Homo sapiens: one gene and its partners. The protein of the gene in region 2 purifies or fractionates together with the protein of the main gene of each other region. This does not show direct contact. Each region holds a gene or a part of one and is shown on either strand. Other genes may lie near its edges. The genes, in order: SCAI, RANBP17 and XPO6.

Evidence for each region.
Region 1: the proteins of RANBP17 (region 2) and SCAI fractionate together in Homo sapiens (co-fractionation; one large-scale study listed by BioGRID). This does not show direct contact.
Region 3: the proteins of RANBP17 (region 2) and XPO6 fractionate together in Homo sapiens (co-fractionation; one large-scale study listed by BioGRID). This does not show direct contact.

What each region holds. Positions count from the first base shown.
Region 1 is NC_000009.12:124,948,006-124,951,658, reverse strand, and holds part of SCAI (protein SCAI), read left to right. Parts: 3' UTR 1-3,653. UniProt on the Homo sapiens protein: Tumor suppressor which functions to suppress MRTFA-induced SRF transcriptional activity. May function in the RHOA-DIAPH1 signal transduction pathway and regulate cell migration through transcriptional regulation of ITGB1.
Region 2 is NC_000005.10:171,239,381-171,243,033, forward strand, and holds part of RANBP17 (ran-binding protein 17), read left to right. Parts: intron 1-1,547; coding exon 1,548-1,762; intron 1,763-3,301; coding exon 3,302-3,440; intron 3,441-3,653. UniProt on the Homo sapiens protein: May function as a nuclear transport receptor.
Region 3 is NC_000016.10:28,097,476-28,100,873, reverse strand, and holds the end of XPO6 (exportin-6), read left to right. Parts: intron 1-2,234; coding exon 2,235-2,336; 3' UTR 2,337-2,898; downstream 2,899-3,398. UniProt on the Homo sapiens protein: Mediates the nuclear export of actin and profilin-actin complexes in somatic cells.

The DNA of each region.
Region 1 (3,653 bases), on a different chromosome or scaffold from region 2:
TCAATTTCAGAAATCTATGAATGAGAAGGCCTTATACCTAATTTTCTGTACAGGATCACATCTGGCAGTCCCAGGAGAAGTGAGCTGATTGCTTTTGATATCTCTTTCCCATGGCCCTAGGTAAATTATACTCTAAATTTATTTATTTTTTTTGAAACAGAGTCTTGCTTTTGTTGCCCAGGTTGGAGTGCAGTGGGGCTATCTCGGCTCACTGCAACCTCCGCCTCCCAGGTTCAAGCAATTTTCCTGCCTCAGCCTCCCGAGTAGCTGGGATTACAGGTGCCCGCCACCATGCCTGGCTAATTTTTGTATTTTTAGTAGAGACGGGGTTTCACCATGTTGGTCAGGCTGGTCTCAAACTCCTGACCTTGTGATCTGCCTGCCTCAGCCTCCCAAAGTGCTGGGATTACAGGCGTGAGCCACCGCACCTGGCTATTATTTTTAACTTGGTTTTCATTTCTGGCATAGAGACTAATTTGGGTCTAAGTTATTCCCATTCCTGCTTTGATTTGCTGATTTTTCAAACCTGAAGTCCAAAGTTACTGTTTTTGGGGTTTGGGGACTTGGGGAGTATTTTACTTTTTTTTTTTTTTTTTTTTAAGAGACAGAGTCTTGCTTTGTTGCCCAGGTTGGGGTGCAGCGGTACATTCATGGCTCACTGCAGCCTCAAATTCCTGGATTCAGGCAATCTTCTCACCTCAGCCTCCCAAGTAGCTGGGACTACAGGCATGCGCCACCATGCCTGGCTAATTTTCTTTATTTTTTAATTTTTTGTAGAGACATGGTCTCACTTTGTTGAGCAGGCTGGCCTCAAACTCCTGGGCTCAAGTGATCCTCCTGCCTCAACCTCCCAAAGTGCTAGGATTACAGGTGTGAGCCACTGTACCTGGCCTGTTTACTTTTTAAAAATTTTTTTGTTTGTTCTTTCAAACAGTATTTCAGAAAGCTTGGGAAAAGTTACCCTGGAAAGATTTCCTTTGCTAGTGGGTTTTCATTTTCAGGTAAAGACTGCTTTCCTTTTTTTTCAGTATCTTAATAAACTTCATAGCTTTCCTTTAGTAACAGTGTTCATTGAACTACAGCAATAGACTATCTTCGGTTTTCTGACCTCTTGTTTCAATTCCCCTTAAGTCCTGTGCCAGTTATGCTCCTACCAACACAGAGTTTCCTGTCCTCTAATGTTTAAAATAGTATTTACTGTTCTGAGCTTTATCCTCCCCCGTTAAGCATAAAGAACACTGGTCTGAGAACTAGGAGACCTAAGTTCTAGTCCTGGCTTTCCTGGTAACTTAAGCGTTATGCCCTTTGACAACTGTCTTCATGTCTCTGCTTGTTAGCACTCTCATCTGTAAAATGAAGAGGTTGGCCCAGGTCTTCTCCAACTCTGATTCTGTAATTTGGACTCTTGGTTCCAAAAATATTGATTTCCCCACTCCAACCACCAAGAGAACTATTTACCCTGTTTGTAGTGTACACAACCTTTTCTTTTGTAAGTCATATTTACCTAGATTTTGTTCAAGAAAATCTGGGTCCCACTTAGCTGTTTTAGAAACTAGTACAGACAGAGACTCTCCTGAGGAAATTAGAGCTTTTATGATTAGAAACATGCTTGTCTAAAAATGAGGGTCTTAGAAATCACAACATTGACCCTTATGATGTTGCCCCTTAAGCTAATAGTGTAATTCCTTACTGGTAGTTAAAAATCTAAAGTGGACTGAAGTGATCTTGAATCTTCAAAGAGAGGAAAACTGTGCTGGAAAATGTTATTGTTTCATTGATGCCTTCAAAAAAATGCGTATTAAACAAAGACTATACTCCAGATTTTCTTCTGGGCATTGGGGAAGCAAACAAAATAGACTTAAAAATCCTCATGTTCATGAAGCTTACATTCTAGTAGAAGGAGTAAGGCAATAAACATAAGTAATTTATGTTAGAAAATGTTAAGTAGGATGGAAAAGTGTAGATTATGGTAAGGTAAATCTTTTGTTTGTTTTCTTAAGAGAAGAACAATGTTTAAAAGAGTGATCAAGCAGGGCATGGTGGCATGACCCTATTAGTCCCAGCTACCTGGGAGGCCGAGGTGGGAGGGTCACTTGAGCCCAGGAGTTTGTGGCTGCAGTGAGCTGTGATTGCACCACTGCACTCCAGCCTGGATGGCAAAGCAAGACCTCGTCTCTGGAAAAAAAGAAAAGAAAAAGTGATGATCAGGGTAGGCTTCATTAGGAAGGTCACATTTGCATGAACACTTTGCCTTTTCTTTCTTTTTATGAAAGTTTTAAACATAGTTTTTTTGTTTTTTGTTTTTGAGACGGAGTTTCACTCTTGTTACTCAGGCTGCAGTGTGGTGGCAGGATCTCAGCTCACTGCAACCTCCACCTTCCAGTTTCAAGTGATTCTCCTGCCTCAGCCTCCCCAGTAGCTGGGATTACAGGCATGTGCCACCACACCCAGCTAATTTTGTGTTTTGAGATGGGGTTTCACCATGTTGGTCAGGCTGGTCTCGAACTCCTGATTTGAGGTGATCCGTTGGCCTCGGCCTCCCAAAGTGCTGGGATTACAGGCATGAGCCACCACGCCCAGCCTAAACATACAGTTTAATAAATCCTCCTTGTACCTTACCCAGCTTCTGTATTTCTTTAATCAAGGGAGAAGAATTATCTAAAAGGACAGTTGCCCAATGGGCTTGAGCTGATGATAGTGGCAAAGAATTTCATTTTTTAAAAATGCATACCACCTGCCCTTTATAAAAAAATTTAAACCCTAATGTATTTAATTTTATAATTCATAAAAATTTAAATATTGGAACTAAGAACAGAGCAAAGCAAAGGGAAAAAGCACTCCTTTGTTTTCAAATTGCACAAACTGTCCCTGGAGATTCTGATAGTCTCTCATCTCTCTTAACTATCACTGTAAACAACATAGAAAGCATAAGACTGCAAGAAGTCAGTTATACACAAAACAAAATGAAGCACAGTGGAATTTTCTCTTTCTTTATCTGTATATTTCTGAAGTTGGTAAAGCAACTATCTTCTCTATTTTACAGAAGAGAAAGCTGAGACCCAAAAAGCTATTCATAGTGATAGAGCTAGAACTAAAACTCAGATCTCCTCATCTCAGCCCAGTCTTCTCAGTAGCTCAGACTGCTTTCTATAATGAACAAGAAAGAATAATTAGGGATTTGTATTTTGGCACAAAACAGTATCAAATTTTTATTGTAAAAATCCACAAATCTGACATTTTATCTTTTATTCTAGCCAGGATGTATTCTTCATTTGCATGTGTGTGTTTCTCTTAGAAAGTGGTGCTCTCAAACCTTTCAAAGCACAGAATTTATTGTACCCTCTTTATTTTTACCAAATTGAAACGTTTCAGGATTTCAGAAGCAAAGTGCAATCCAATTGTGGCTGGAGTTTTCCTGATAGAGGATCCGGGTGGTTCCCTCCCCTCCAACTTCTGGCTACTGCCCTTTATTTCCTTTGTGCAATAGAATTCCCTGAAACAGATTATGTCGTAATTATACTGATTTAGTCAGGATAATGGGAAAAGCGACAAATCGGATTTATGTATTAGGTATTATGGAGCTTTCTTTAGCACTCTCCTCCAAGTTTAATCTCTGACATGTGTGATATAGTAACTTTCTGTCTCTGAGAAGC
Region 2 (3,653 bases):
CTTAACCTCTTAGTACACATGTGATTACCATAATATATATATGTCAGTCAAGCTTCAAACCAGGAAAAACAAGCATGATAATACTTTTGGAATGGATAACTTATTTTAGAAATTAGACCTTATACAATCTTAGGCAAAGATGGGGAAATAGGGCCAAAGTGGGGAGTTGGAGGTTCAGGGGAAAAATATCACTGATCAGCCCTCCTGAAATAATGGCATAGACAAGTTGGAATTTGCAGGGAAATCTAGAAACCAGGCACATTTAGGTGCTAGAGTGGAACTATGAAAGGATTAGGGGTGAGAAGGTAGCTGGTGTTATGGTATAGAAGTCAGTAGAAGGCTGTTGCGTCTGCATAGCTATTGCTTCTGTAAGTGTGCTACCACCTGTTTGGTGGTGGGCTTGGAGATATTGGTCAGCAGGGCTGGTAGTTCTAGACACAAACAGGACAAGGAAGAACAAGGACAAAGTGAAACCGAGCAGCATTTCTACCTGTTACTCTTACCACCTCTAACCACAGCAACCTTTAAAAAGTCATGGCAGCTACTCCACTCCCAGCATCCAAATCTCACACAAATGTCTCTTTTGGCCAATTCTAGCCCACAACCATAAAGGGAAGTGGATTCTAAGAAACTTAATTCTTGTTAGCTAAGTTGACACAGTGTAAGCCACTATATTATACTTCTAAATTTTGTAAATTGAATTTAGTTTCAATTTTAGAAGCAATACTCATTTGACCAGGAAAAAGCAGAGGTAAGAAACATATATTACTTTATATTTTTTTAAAACATTATCAAGTATTGCCTAGTAACATACTTACTAGCACACATTTCAGAAACAGAAATCATTGATTGTAAATGCTAACTGTACTACAGAAGATTTTAGGGTGATCATACAAACATTTCTTTGTCTTCTGATGGTCAACGCAGAATTTAAGTACAATTTTTAAAACAATCATCTCTTGAGATCTTCTGAAGAAGGATCTAAGAAGAAAAAGGAAGTAATATTTACTGTACACTGCACCAAGAACTTCTGTGTGTGTTATTTCATTGAATTCGTATACCAAACCTGTGAGGCTCCTAAAAATGAAGTAACTCAAGATCAAATTCATATAAAAGGTCAAAAATTTGCCGAGAATTTAGGGTAATTTACATCTCAGTCAGGTTATCTTTTTCTCTTGACTTAGTTTTATCCTACTTTTTAAAATTTTTTACTGACAGGATAACACATAGAGTAAAATGAATAGTCTTAAGAGTACAACTTAATGAAATTTTACATATCTATGTATACATCTGTGTAATCACCATGCAGATAAAAATATAGAGCTTTTCCAATATAAGGATATTGATTTTTCCTTGGGCCTTTTGTACTTCCAGGTAAACTGCCATATGTATTTATATTTTTTATTACAATGAATAAAAAAAAATTCTTAAAAATATGCTGGGAGGAAGTGAACATTAGCAGTAAAGTAAAAATGTTAAATAGTGTGTCCCATAACTACTTTGAATGACATCTACTTATGTCACTTTCTGCTTTTATCCTGAAACAGGTAATCAGATCCTGTCCCTTGGGAGCCTCTCAAAAGATCAGATTTATCCAATGAAACTCAAGGGCATCTCCATCTGCTATTCAGCTCTCAAGTCTGCCTTGTGTGGAAATTATGTCAGCTTTGGCGTCTTCAAGTTGTATGGGGACAACCATTTTGACAATGTACTCCAGGCTTTTGTCAAAATGCTGCTGTCAGTGTCCCACAGTGACTTGCTAGTAAGCAATCATGCATCATGGGAGTGTTTGTATGAAATGTGAAGTAACACCACCACAGGCCTGGAAGTGTTATAATGAAGCCCAGGGAGTTAGCCTAGAACATTTTATGTTTTAAGACAGCATACTTGATCTAACTTACAGAATTTGGAAAACTATAGTGGCTTTTTTTTTTTTTTAGCATCTCTGCCTGATTATATAGAAACCAATATGTGCCCAATGTAGTAGCAGTAATTACTTGAGTAACATAGCCAAATCATGCTTAGGCTTAGTTCAGGCTTTCCCACCTGCTCCCACTCAAGGTTACAAGTAAAATCTGGAAGGCCTTTGTTAGTCAACCTGTGTAAGAAATGCTTCTTGATCTCCTAGTGGACTAGTGCATCATCTTCCACCTTTATAAACTAATCTTGGAATGGCTGCATCTCAAGCCAAAGAGAGGACTTCCTTGTAGTAGAATGGAATGATCATTGAAGGATATGTCTGTTAGACAGAAATTACAAAGTAGAAACTTGAGTCAAATCAGCCATATGTTAAAATCACCTCATCAAAGAGTTACTTCACTACAGTTAAAGTCCACCAAGACAACTGGTATGGTTCCAAGAATTTTTCTCTAATTTTTTTATTCTAATAGTCAAACAAACCTTCAACTCAGTAATTCTCCAACTTGAAGGTGCATAAGACTCTCTTAACGTGTGTTAAAAATATACATTTCAGAGCCTACACTAGAGCTTGTCATTTAGCGAGTCTGAAGTGGGGATCAGGAAACTGCGTTTTTAACAAGCACCCCAAGTGATTCCTATTGAGTTGGTCTTAACATCACTTTAAGAAATGCTCCTCTGGTTTCTCTTTTTTTCTTTTTTTTTTTTTAGAGGCAGGGTCTTGCTGTGTTGCCCAGCCTGTTCTTAGACTCCTGGGCTTAAGCAATTCTCCTGCCTCAGCCTCCCAAGTAGCTGGAATTACCAGCATGAACCTCCATGCCCAGCTTCTCTAATTTATCTTACAAGTGTGTTTCTTTGATACTGGTTTGGATTGCATTTGAGATTTTTCAGGTATCTTTCTCATGCACTTATCTTTTGCCTGTAGTGTATGGTAAATATTAAGCCCTTTACCAAATTATTATTTAGTTAGATGGATTAGCATTATATTAATACAACAGACTATGGTGCCAAATCCCATTATAACAGCAAATGTCTTTGTGTTTAAAAAACCAACAAAAAAAAGGTTTCCTAGCGACTGTTAAGCACTGTTCAGTGTTACAGTATTCCAATCCAGAAAAATAATTCACACAGTCTTCTAAATATCGTACTGCAGGGATTTTACTTTTAAGTGCTAACCATATAAGGTAAAGAGATCAAGCGATTCCTATCAGAACCCCTTTAAATGCTGGATTGGGACTCATTATGTCATTTGCTCTATATATTTATTGACCTTGTGTTTAAATAAGTTTACAATTTCCAGTATTATAAATGACAATTTTCACTGGACTGTAACATGTATTTTTCTTCTCTGTGGCTTGACATTTAGTATATCTCTGTGTTGTAGCAATACCGGAAACTGAGCCAGTCTTATTATCCACTCCTGGAATGTCTCACTCAGGACCATATGAGCTTCATCATCAACTTAGAGCCTCCTGTACTCATGTATGTTCTCACATCTATCTCAGAGGGACTCACTACTCTTGGTAAGGATCATAGAGGACATTGTTTCCATAGGAAAAACTTGATTATGGGCTTTTAATGTATGTGATTATTGAGACTATCATCCTACAAAGGGGGAAAAGATATTGTGAACCCAAACTGAAAGATTATAATTATTACTTGCAAGTGGGAAAAATGTATTTCTTCATATTTTGATACATAGTCAGTTATGTTTTAATCAGCTTTACTGAGGTATA
Region 3 (3,398 bases), on a different chromosome or scaffold from region 2:
CCGTGCAGCACCTCGGTGGGAGCTGGGTGCTGCTGGCTCTTGGTGTCCATGAGGCCATCTTGTTGGAGCCTGACAGTGCCTGGGACCTCCTTCCCCATGGGGCTCACCTGTTCTCTTCTTCCTGTGTCAGGTGACCAGGCCTCTCTCTTGCCTGATAGGAACTTCTGGGAACTTTTCCTTGTACCGTTTTATACTTGATGAAATTAGGAAAAGAAATCGCTTTCTCCCTGGTCCTCTTGGGGTTCTTGACCTGAGTCCTCTGTGAAGCAGCTTGTCCACGGCTCCACCGTAGTGCTCAGATGCACACACTGCTCTCACTGGTGCAAACCTGGCCGCCTGCTTTCCTCATTTGCCACGTGTGGCAGGGAAGCTTTTGCTTAGACTCATCCTGTTCTCCTTTGTCTTGGGGTCTTCCTTTTCTTGGGACTTGTTCTCTCCTAAGCCTCTTCCAGTTCACTTCAGCCCCTGGATATGTTTTTTCCTTTTTCTAGAGGCCAGATCCTAATACTTAATGATCAGCTTCTAACGACATCAATATCAGTCAACTTTTTGATTTAAAGCTGTGGTTTCAAAATCTAGTTATAGGCCAGGCGCGGTGTCTCACACCTGTAATCTCAGCACTTTGGGAGGCCAAGGCGGGCGGATCACTTGAGGTTAGGGGGTTTGAGACCAGCCTGGCCAACATGGCGAAACCCTGTCTCTACTAAAAATAAAAAAAATTAGTCAGGTGTGGTGGCACACGCCTGTAATCCCAGCTGCTTGGGAGGCTGAGGCACAAGAATCTCTTGAACCCGGGAGGCAGAGGTTGCAGTGAGCGGAGGTTGTGCCACTGCACTCCAGCCTGGGCGGCAGAGTGGGACTTTGTCTCAAAAAAAAAAATCTAGTTATATCAGAAGCACCTGGGGTACTTATTAAAAATGGAGAAACAGACTTCTGTGTTCTACCCAGGAAATTCTGGTTTGGCATTTGGGAGCCACTGATTTAAAAGACATCCCTTAGTTGGTTTTTTGAGGGTAAAATAAAAGAATCACCACCTTCCATTCAGTCACGCACTGTGTGTTTGAAGCCAGCTGCTTCTCAAGCCCCGGGCCAGGAACTGGGGCACCAGTCCCAGCCTTCACCAAGTCTTTCATGGTAGACAGGCCAATACAGCACCCTCTGTGGACCACATAGTGCCAAGCATGTGACATGTCTTGGCTCGAGTAAGCCTTCTAACAAGCCTCTGAAGTGTGGGTCCTGTTACTCCCCCATTTCACAGATGGTGGGGGCTCAGAAGGTGAGCAGTTCACAGAACTTGGAAGTGGTAGAGCTGCGAAGCAGGAGGCAGACCTGGGTGTTCTGGCCCCAGAGCCTGCACACACTCCCCAGAAGCAGATTGCTCAGGACAGAGGCGCTGAGCTGGCTGCTGGGGCCAGGAAATAGGAGGCATCTGTGCAGACTTTGGGAAGAGGCAGGCTTTGAATGGAGTTCTGGAAGAGGAATAGTGGTTGGGCAGGAAAATGAACTTGGTCCTGCTCATGGCTCTGCTGGGGCTTGCTGGGCCTGTTTGAGTCCTCACCGGGACCTACACTGAAAAAAAAAGCAGGGTCTCACCGTGTGCATGATGGCGGAGGTCAGGGCCTCACTTCTGGCCCAGGGCCTTCCATGGCCCACGCTGCGCCCAGTGGGACAGGCCTTGGGACTGTGTTTGCTGCTGCTCGGGTGGCTCTCGAGGGGCAGGGGCGGCCTGGAGCCCCGTGGGTAAAGGTTCTGCAGACATTGCTCGGTGTGCGCGTCACCTCAAGGGGCCATGGTGAAGAAGAGGGCTGTCACCACAGCCATGTCTGCGTTTGAGGGGCCGGACTCAGGAGCAAGTGTGCTGGTCTCTTCAGTGTGAGCTGGGGCCAGCTTCTTCATGGTGCAGCGCTTTGGTCTTTCTGTCCTTAGACTAGTGGTTCTGGTAGGGCTTGGTGGCAGCCTTGTGGTGAGGACTCAGTGAGTTGATGTCTGTATGTTGATTGCAGCAGTGTCTGGCACCCGAGAGGCCCTAGGGACGTATTCCTCTTGTTCTTTTTCTCCCACAGCGCCTGGCACAGAGTCTCTGTGACACGCAGTGCAACAGTGAATAGAAGTTTTGAGTTTTAGAAAGTGCTCCCCTATCTTCAGTGCACACTCTGGGATGGAAGTAGCTGTTGGGGTCTGGTGGGTGGGTGACCTGGTGTGTTGTTGGCTGCAGCTATGCCCCTGCCTTCCAGGACCTGCCCTCATTCACCCAGAATGTGCACAGGCTGGTCAACGACCTGCGCTACTACAGACTCTGCAACGACAGCCTGCCCCCTGGCACTGTGAAGCTCTAGGCCTGCTACTGCCTGGGGACACGGACTTCTGCTGCTGCCACCTGCGCCAGCCCTACCTTCCACCACAGATGTCTCCCAGATGGGCCTTGGTCACACTCCTTGGCTTCTCCCACCGCAAGCAACGCTGCCTGCCTCTGCCGCTCCTCCACATCTTGCCGCTGCCCAGCAGAGCTGGCTTCTGGGTCCACCTGAGCACTGGACGGTGCTCCCAGGGCGTTGGAGCAGGCGGAGGGGTGTGTGGCCAGGTACTAGGAGGCACCAGGAAATCCCGCGGGGTGGCCCATGCAGACCAGGCGCACGTGGCTCATGGGGCAGAATTGCCAAGGACAGCTCACGACAGTGCCACCTTCTCACCATTCCAGCCAAGGAGAGATGTGACGTTGGAACTGCTCTGGCACTTCTGTCAAGCCTCCCCCGCCCCAATTGCCTTGAGATCTCTGCTCTTTGTCAGAGATTTGCAAAGACTCACGTTTTTGTTGTTTTCTCATCATTCCATTGTGATACTAAGAAACTAAGAAGCTTAATGAAAAGAAATAAAATGCCTATGTTGTTGTTCTAGAAACCCTGGCTGGGGAGCTGCTTGCTACTCACAGCCTCCTTGAGGCCGGGTTCCCAGCAAGGTGCATCCTGATGGGAATGTGGGCAGTGCGGCTTGGAGTGGGCTGGCTCCTGGCGTCTCCCACCTTCTAATGGCATCTCCCTGACTGCTCTTACTCAGCGAGGGGAGGGGGTCTCACTGACAGTTGGCCAGATGATGGAGGGAGGCTGCAGTCTGGGAGGGGGTCTCACTGATGGTTGGCCTGGTACTGGTGGAGGCTGGAGGCTGGGAGGGGGTGTTGCTGATGGTTGGCCTGGTGGTGGAGGGAGGCTGGAGTCCAGGCTGCCTGACTCCTGTGGCCCCTGTGGCACCCACTCCCCCTGCCCCCCAGGGTGGGAAGTGTGGGCTCCACCTCCCCCACCTGCTAGGGAATAGATTCCTTCCCACGATGTGCAGCAGGACCTGGCCCTCCGTGGCCTGAAGTCTCGCTGGAGGACAGGGAGGTGGGGTCTCATGATGGATTG